Homo sapiens: one gene and its partner. Changing the gene in region 1 together with any one later gene gives a genetic interaction. Each region holds a gene or a part of one and is shown in the gene's direction. Other genes may lie near its edges.

Region 1 (5,454 bases):
CTGACCTCCGGAGAGTGTCCTCAGCCCCGCTCACTGCTTAGCCCTCCAAGTGGTGCCCAGGGCTGCAGGTGTACTGACTTCCCTTCCGGGGTGGCTCTGACGCTGCACCGGGGGCCAGGTGACTCCCTAGTGTGGACGGCCGTCCTTGGACCTCCCGACCCTGCCAGGAGGTGGCCAGTCTGAGCATCGGGACTTTGCCCCCCACCAGACCCTTGTCTGGTGTGCTGAGCGGGCTCGTCACAGCCCCCTTTGCCTCGGGCCTTCGGCGACGTCAGCACCGTCTCCTGCCCCACCCAGGTGACCCTTGCACGGTGTCCTCCCAGATGGAGCTGGAAGAGGCTTTCCGCCTGGCCCGTCAGTGCAGGGATGAAGGCCTCATCATTCATGGTTAGTGGCGGGGTCTGTGGTGGGCAGCTCTGGGGGGCTGTTCCTGGCTGTGGGTGTCTGCCGACTAGCTGGGGGATTTAAAATGGTTTAAAATCCTATGATGCCAGAGAATTTAGGGATGTCTAATATAATGCCATTTGGGTTTTTTTCTTTGACTTTTTTTTTTTTTTTTTGAGACGGAGTCTTGCTCTGTTGCCCAGGCTGGAGTGCAGTGGCACAATCTCAGCTCACTGCAAGCTCCGCCTCCTGGGTTCATGCCATTCTCCTGCCTCAGCCTCCCGAGTAGCTGGGACTACAGGCGCCCGCCACCACGCCCGGCTAATTTTTTGTATTTTTTGTAGAGACGGGGTTTCACCGTGTTAGCCAGGATGGTCTCAGTCTCCTGACCTCGTGATCTGCCTGCCTCAGCCTCCCAAAGTGCTGGGATTACAGATGTGAGCCACCGCGCCCGGCCTTTTCTTTGACATTTTATTAACCCAAATGAAAACTGCTCTTAACAAAGAACCCGTAAACCACTCAGAGGCTCCAGTGGCCAGCGTAGGGCCCGCGGCGCATGTGGACAGAGGGGACAGCCCCACCAGCCACCTCACCTGCCCGGTGCTCCCTAGGCCCGGCTCCAGGCTCACAGCTGTCCTCAGCTTTAAGTTCAAAGCCCCATGATGAGCTGACGCATGGGAGATGTGATTGTGATCATTTCCACTTTGTCTTTAGGTGGGCGTGGGCTCCTCCCCGGTACTGCTGGGGGTCTGCAGGGCGTCTGGGGCCTGGGAATGTGGTTCCAGCGCTGTGGCCAGCCGGTCACGTCTTTGTCTCTGTGTCCACTTCTGGCGTAGCTTGGGCTCCTTGCCAGGCGTCTGGCCATGGACGATTGAGTCCAAGATGGGACCAAAGCTCGAAACCACCCATGGATTTCTGACAGATCCATCATTCTCCTGGACACCGGGCTACCTGGTTACAACACTTAATTTTCTTCGCCCTTTATATCAATGAGGCTCTAAATTTAAAGACTAGGCCGGGTGCGGTGGCTCACAACTGTAATCCCAGCACTTTGGGAGGTCAAGGTGGGAGGATCGCTTCAGCCTAGGAGTTCAAGACCAACCTGGGCAACATAGTGAGACCCCCCCCTCTCCAAAACTTGTTTTATTTTTTTGAGACAGAGTCTGGCTCTGTCCCCAGGCTGGAGTGCAGTGGCACTATCTCTGTTCACTGCAACCTCCACCTCCCAGATATAAGCGATTGTCCTGCCTCAGCCTCCCGAGTAGCTGGGACTACAGGCATGTGCCACCACACTTGGCTAATTTTTTTTTTTTTTTAGTTGGAGTCTCGCTCTGTCGCCCAGGCTGGAGTGCAGTGACGCGATCTCAGCTCAATGCAACCTCCGCCTCCCGGGTTCAAGCAATTCTTCTGCCTCACCCTCCCAAGTAGCTGGGACTACAGGCATGTGTCATCACGCCTGGCTAATGTTTTGTATTTTTAGTAGAGACGGAGTTTCACCATGTTAGCCAAGATGGTCTCGATCTCCTGACCTCGTGATCCACCCGCCTCAGCCTCCCAAAGTGCTGGGATTACAGGCGTGAGCCACGGTGCCCGGCCTAATTTTTGTATTTTTAGTAGAGATGGGGTCTCGCCATGTTGGCCAGGCTGTTCTCAAACTCCTGACCTTAGGTGATCTGCCTGCCTCAGCTTCCTGAAGTGTTGGGATTACAGGCGTGAGCCACGGTGCCCGGCCCCAATTTTTTTTTTTTTTTTTTTTTTTGATATTCAGACGTGGTGGTGCACCTGTAGTCCCAGTTACTCGGGAGGCTGAGGTGGGAGGATTCCTTGAGCACAGGAGGTAGAGGCTACAGTGAACTGTGATTATTCCACTGCACTCTAGCCTGAGTGATGGGGCGAAACCCTGTGTCAGATAAATAAATTCATAGATGTGCCTAATCTAGTCCTTTTTATTGTGGTTGTGATAGTAAGCACATTTTGCCTCTCTATGTGGAAAGATACAGTGGCTTAAAAATTCACATTGTTTTCTAGATAAAAGAAAAATAGGGCTGGGTTCAGTGGCACACACTTGTAATCCCAGCACTTTGGGAGGCCGAGGCAGGTGGATCACTTGAGGTCAGGAGTTCAAGACCAGCCTGACCAACATGGTGAAACCCCATCTCTACTATAAATACAAAAATTAGCCGGGCGTGGTGGTGTACACTTGTAATCCCAGCTACTTGGGAGGCTGAGGCAGGAGAACTGCTGGAACCCGAGAGGTGGAGGTTGCAGTGAGCTGAGATTGTGCCACTGAGCTCCAGCCTGGGCACAGAGTGAGACTCCATCTGAAAAAAACCAACAAAAAACAAAAAATGTTTGTTTTTTTAAAGTTTCAATACTTTTATGTGTATACACACACACATAAAAAAGTAGAGATGGGGTTTCGTCATGTTGGCCAGGCTGGTCTTGAACTCCTGGCCTGAAGCCATCCTCTCATCTCGGCCTCCCAAAGTGCTGGGATTGCAGGCGTGAGCCATCATGTCCAGCCAAGTTTTAATACTTTCTAAGCACCTATTTTAATAATTTATTGTGGAAGCCCAGGATATATGTTAAAATAATTTTGAACTCTGTCTTGAGTATGAAGAAGTGGAATCTAAAGTGCTTTTAAAAGTCAGTGTTCAAAGTAATTGCATTTCTTTCCCATTTTTATATAGTTTAAAAATACAAATCAGTAGCTTCCTCTGATGGCTTTGCTGTCCAGGTCCCTCTGATTGCCTTTTACTCTAAGTTTTTCCGTGGGTTTTAAAGTCGGAGCCTGGCCTACGTAGACGCACGGGGTTTTGCGTCTCCCAGGAGCGGGCTCTCATTGGCAGTGCCACGTGCGCCTTGCGTGAAGTCCACGTGCTCAGCCTGACTGAGGCGGGACTTCCTCCGTGAGACTGTTGAGTGGCAGCCGCAGGGTCTTGACGCTGTCTCTTTCTCTCTCTTGTCCAGTTTTCCCGAGCACCCCTGAGCAGCCTGGCCTGCCATGTCCGGGAGAAGACAGTGAGTACTGGGGTTTCCTACGCCGGTCTCGCATGTTACGGGGTTGAACTGTTGATCCGTTGTGCCACGGAGGTGGCAGTGGTGCCGTTTTCGGAGGTTCACCCTCGTGGAGCGTCAGGGCAGGAGCAGCCGTGGTGACCGCAGGTGGGGTTTTCACTGCAGCTGCTGCCTGTGCGTGTTCTGGCTGACAGCACCACATGGCGGGGGACTCGCTTGGCTGGTTGGTAGCATGAGAAGTCCAGGGGTGCCCTGCCGTCTCCCTAGGAGGGAGGGGCCAGGTGGGAGGCTGGACACTGCTCCTTTGTGGCTGCCTCAGCTCACGACCACCCCTAGGCCAGTCGTCTGCTCCTCCTGGTCCCTGCTGGCCCCTGAGCTGGTGTGGGGGCTCCGTTCATCCCACACTGGCTCCATTGTTGGGAGAGGAAGGAGAGTGAGTCCCGGGGGCTGTGGCTTCAGAGGGAAGCTTCTGACCTCACTTCCTACTGCATCCCGGAGACTGTTGGGCCCTGAGCAGGTGGCTACGCTGCTCTCGGGCCGCGCATCCCATGGCTGTGCTTGGTGGGGTTCCACCCCCACTCTCCAGACCCCACACGGCCTCCAGCATCCGTGCCATGCCTTGTTCGTTGTGTGGGCAGGAGCTCCTGGACCGAGGCCGCTGCCTGTCCAGCGCAGGGCACGTGGCTCAGTGCCCTTCAGGCAGGGCTTCCCCCACCCCTGCTGCCAGGGCACACACCTCGCTGGCCTCAGGCTGGATGCTGGGTGTTGGCAGTGCCCTGTGTTGGGCGGGAACTGGGGGTGGGAGCAGATTCAGGCCAAGAGGGTGAGTGGGCAGTTGGGGCGAGAGTCTTGGCTTCCAGTGAGAAGTGGGGCTGAATAGAGGTTTGGCAGTGCTTAGCATAGGGGGCGAGAGTCTCGGCTTCCAGCGAGAAGTGGGGCTGAATAGAGGTTTGGCAGCGCTTAGCGTAGGGGAGGCCCCAGGAGCCATGGGATTTCCATGATCTGCCCGGGGAGAGGGCGGCGTGGCATCCCGGTTCCAGGCCCTCAGCCAACCGGGGTCCCTGCACCGTGGCCGGCAAGGCCGAGGAGCCATCCGGAGGTGGGCCCTGGCAGGAATGGAGCGGGTGGTCTGGGGCTGGACCTGCCGGCAGGAGGAGATGGGGTATGTCCGTGGCAGGCGGACACCACCAGGTGGTTTTGGCAGCGCAGGGCGAGTGTGAGGAGGCAGGGGGCGGGGAGGCTTTGGAGGCAGGTGGCCAGACGGTGGGCGTCAGGGCCCTGATCACCTACGCAGCTGCCCTGGTGGTGACCTTTCCCGGGACCCTCCCTCTGGGTGCCCACGCCTCACGGACCCTGGAGCACGCACCCTGGGAGGGCACGGTTCACTGCGTTTTTATAGATACATAAACACATAAATAGGACAGATACTCCCTGTGGGTGAGACGATGGTTGTCCCCTCCACAGCGCCCTGCAGCCTCATGCTGCTGCTTTATAGGAGGGGACCCACGGGCCGTGTTTATTTGCCACCTGGGTGATTTTTTGACTTGGTGACAGGACTGTGCTCCTCTGTCCCATGTGTGCTGAGACTGTGCACTCCCAGAGGTATCCACATGCGGCCAGTGTAGCCCCTGGGCGCGGGGGAAGCCCACCGTATTTCTCCGACATGTCTGCCTCTTGTCTCAACCCTGCCTGGGGGCCTGGGGTCTGCTCTTTCTGTCTACGACCTCGGCATTGCCTCTCTGCCCGTGTGGACAACCTGCCGGCCTTGCGTAGGGAAGGGAGGCCCGCATTTGCTCGGCCACTGCAGTGGAGGAAGGGGAGGTTGGGGGGTCACAGGATGTCCAGAGGCCTGAGCTCTGAAGGGGAGTGTGTCATGGGGGTGGCAGCCGAGTCACCGTGGGGAATGCGGAGAATGTGGCCAAGCCCCGAGGAAGGACCTCCTGGGACACGTGAGTAGGTCCTTGAGATGTTTACCAGGGGTGGCTCCACGGCTTCGGGGACCACTCAGCCTGGTTGGGGACATTCCGCCAGAGCCTCTGGGGCAGCCTTTGC
Region 2 (2,860 bases), on another chromosome or scaffold:
TTACATAAACAATACATGTTTATATATTTTTATTTTATTTTGGTGGGAGGACGGAGTCTTGCTCTGTTGCCCAGGCTGGAGTGCAGTGGCACAAGCTTGGCTCACTGCAACCTCAGCATCCCAGGTTCAAGCGATTCTCCTCCCTCAGCCTCCCCAGTAGCTGGGATTACAGGCGCTTGCCACCACGCCTGGCTAATTTTTGCATTTTTAGTAGAGACGGGGTTTCACCATGTTGGCCAGGCTGGTTTCAAAATCCTGACCTCAAGTGATCCACCCATCTTAGCCCCCCAAAGTGCTGGGATTACAGGTGTGAGACACCGTGCCCAGCCAAAAAAAAAAAAAAAAAAATTGTTAAAGAAATATCTTCAGGCACAGCCCTCCAAACTCATTCGTATTCATTCAACAAATAAGTATGAACTATATGTCAGGCACTATGCTAGAGGCCACAAAAAACACACAGTCCCTCTTTTACAGATTTTATAGACTAGCAGGGGAGACAGAAATGGATCAAGTAAACACGAGTGTCAAATGTCAAGTGTGCTAAGTGCTAGGAGAGAGGGCCAATGAACTATAAGAATAATAAGATGTGACTTGAAGGGGAGAGCAATGAGCAACAAGAAGAGGAAAAGGTAGGCAGAGGCCAGCCACACCAGGCCCTGTGGGCCTGTTAAATATTTGGGGCTTTTTAAGTTTTCATACCATTTCCCATCTGCTTCCTGCTAGGCATTACGCTACCCGCTTTTTATTTTATTTTATTTTATTTTATTTTTTAGACAGAGTCTCATTCTGTTGACTAGGCTAGAGTGCAGTGGCACAATCTTGGCTCACTGCAGCCTCTACCTCCTGGTTTCAAGCAATTCTGCCTCAGCCACCTGAGTAGCTGGGATTAAGGCGTGCCGCCACTACTCCTGGCTAATTTTTGTATTTTTAGTAGAGACGGGATTTCACCCTGTTGGCCAGGCTGGTCTCAAATTCCTGACCTCAAGTGATCTGCCTGCCTCGGCCTCCCAAAGTGCTGGAATTACAGGCGTGAGCCACCCCGCCCGGCCATGCTACACGCTTTAAACACATTTCCAAACTTACCCTTCACAAACACATTATGAGATAGGAATGATTATCCACATGGGGCTCAGAAAAGGAAAGTCATTTGCCCAGAATCTATGTGACTCTAGAGCTGGCTCCTCATCATCGTGTCTATTGCCTCCTGTTTACCCCTCCATCAGGACTGTGTGTGTCTCTGTCCACGTGGAAGAGCTCCCCACAACTCACTTTGCCCTATTGTAAGTAGTTCAACCTCCACCACCTGTTTCAGAGCCCAAATGCAGTGGCTCTTCCCTGAACTTTTTCAGCACCTACAGCTTCTGTACTTCTGAAATCTTGAATGATGGAAAGTCCCTTCTTTGACCATATACCTCCTGGCCCAGCTCAAAAATCACTGTTTTTTTGTTTGTTTAATTTCTCTGACTTCTCCAGGCAGGGTTAGTCATTCTTGCTTTATGCCCCTTGGCACTCGGTTAATTTTCCTATCTTGGGGTTTACTGCATTCTTTATCTCTTACCTTCCCTGAGCCATCTTGGTGCCTGAACACAGTTCGTGGCCACCGAAGGTGCTCGATGACACTTGTTGAATGAGGGGTTCTATTGCTCCCTTCCCTCCAATTCCCACTTGCCCTCCACCTGCTACTCTGTTATCTACTGGCTCTGCCCGTCTATGTGTACACATGCCTGACACCTCAGACAAGGTGACTCATGAAGGATGCCCCTGACTAGCTTGCCCTGCCTCCTCTGTTACTGTCTTTGCCGCATGTCTTCTGAGTCAGTATAAGGTGGTGGTTATTAGTAAGTGATCCTGAGTCAGACTGCTTGGATTCAAGCTCCACTCCTGCCTCACCGACTGACTTCAAGAGAGTTTCCTTAGTTCTGTAAGGAAAAGCTCTTCATCTGTTAAATGGGGGTGTGACAGGAGCACCTACCTTCTAGGGTTTTCACAAGGATTACAGGAGGCCACATCCACTGGGTCTGGACCACAGTAAGTGCCCAGTACCCTTGATCTAGAGTTACTATTTTTCATGTCAATTGATGCACAGTCTTACTCCTCTACCTATTGTCTTGGCCAGCATCCATCAGTGTGTCTGTCTGCTGGGGAGATGCAGGGAGAAGACTGTCAATTGATCTCTGCTCCCTGGGATGGATCAGCCGTCTCCAGCTTTGTGTACCATCCTTTTCTCTCTGCGTTTCCCCAGGGCTCCCTGTGCCACTACTTGACCCAGTACACCAGTGACTGGGGAAGTTCCCTGCGGATGGCACTGTCCCTGGCCCAGGGCCTGGCATTTCTCCATGAGGAGCGCTGGCAGAATGGTGGGTGAGCTGGGCATAGGAAGTCAAGGGAGCCACAGTGCTATGTTTGTGATTCTGCCTTAGTTTGGAGGGGAAAGATTGGGTCAAAAGAGGGAGGAAGAGCCGGGCACGGTGGCTCACGCCTATAATCCCAGCACTTTGGGAGGCCGAGGTGGGCGGATCACAAGGTCAGGAGATCGAGGCCATCCTGGCTAACATGGTGAAACCCTGTCTCTATTAAAAATACAAAATATTAGCCGGGCGTGGTGGCATGTGCCTGTAGTCCCAGCTACTCGGGAGGCTGAGGCAGGAGAATCACTTGAACCCGGGAGGCGGAGGTTGCAGTGAGCCGAGATCGCGACACTGCACTCCAGCCTGGGCGACAGAGCGAGACGCCGACTCAAAAAAAAAAAAAGAGGGAGGAAGAAAATCCATGTTCCTTCAACCTTGGATTCCCCCACAGGCCAATATAAACCAGGTATTGCCCACCGAGATCTGAGCAGCCAGAATGTGCTCATTCGGGA

What was found. Genes that interact genetically often act in the same process or in processes that back each other up.
Region 2: changes in PRKCZ (region 1) and AMHR2 together harm fitness more than expected from each alone (negative genetic interaction), as found in Homo sapiens cells (one large-scale study listed by BioGRID).

Annotation. Positions count from the first base shown.
Region 1 is NC_000001.11:2,056,187-2,061,640, forward strand, and holds part of PRKCZ (protein kinase C zeta type), read left to right. Parts: intron 1-297; coding exon 298-387; intron 388-3,354; coding exon 3,355-3,405; intron 3,406-5,454. UniProt on the Homo sapiens protein: Calcium- and diacylglycerol-independent serine/threonine-protein kinase that functions in phosphatidylinositol 3-kinase (PI3K) pathway and mitogen-activated protein (MAP) kinase cascade, and is involved in NF-kappa-B activation, mitogenic signaling, cell proliferation, cell polarity, inflammatory response and maintenance of long-term potentiation (LTP).
Region 2 is NC_000012.12:53,426,654-53,429,513, forward strand, and holds part of AMHR2 (anti-Muellerian hormone type-2 receptor isoform 1 precursor), read left to right. Parts: intron 1-1,223; coding exon of another isoform or gene 1,224-1,280; intron 1,281-2,242; coding exon 2,243-2,357; intron 2,358-2,799; coding exon 2,800-2,860. UniProt on the Homo sapiens protein: On ligand binding, forms a receptor complex consisting of two type II and two type I transmembrane serine/threonine kinases.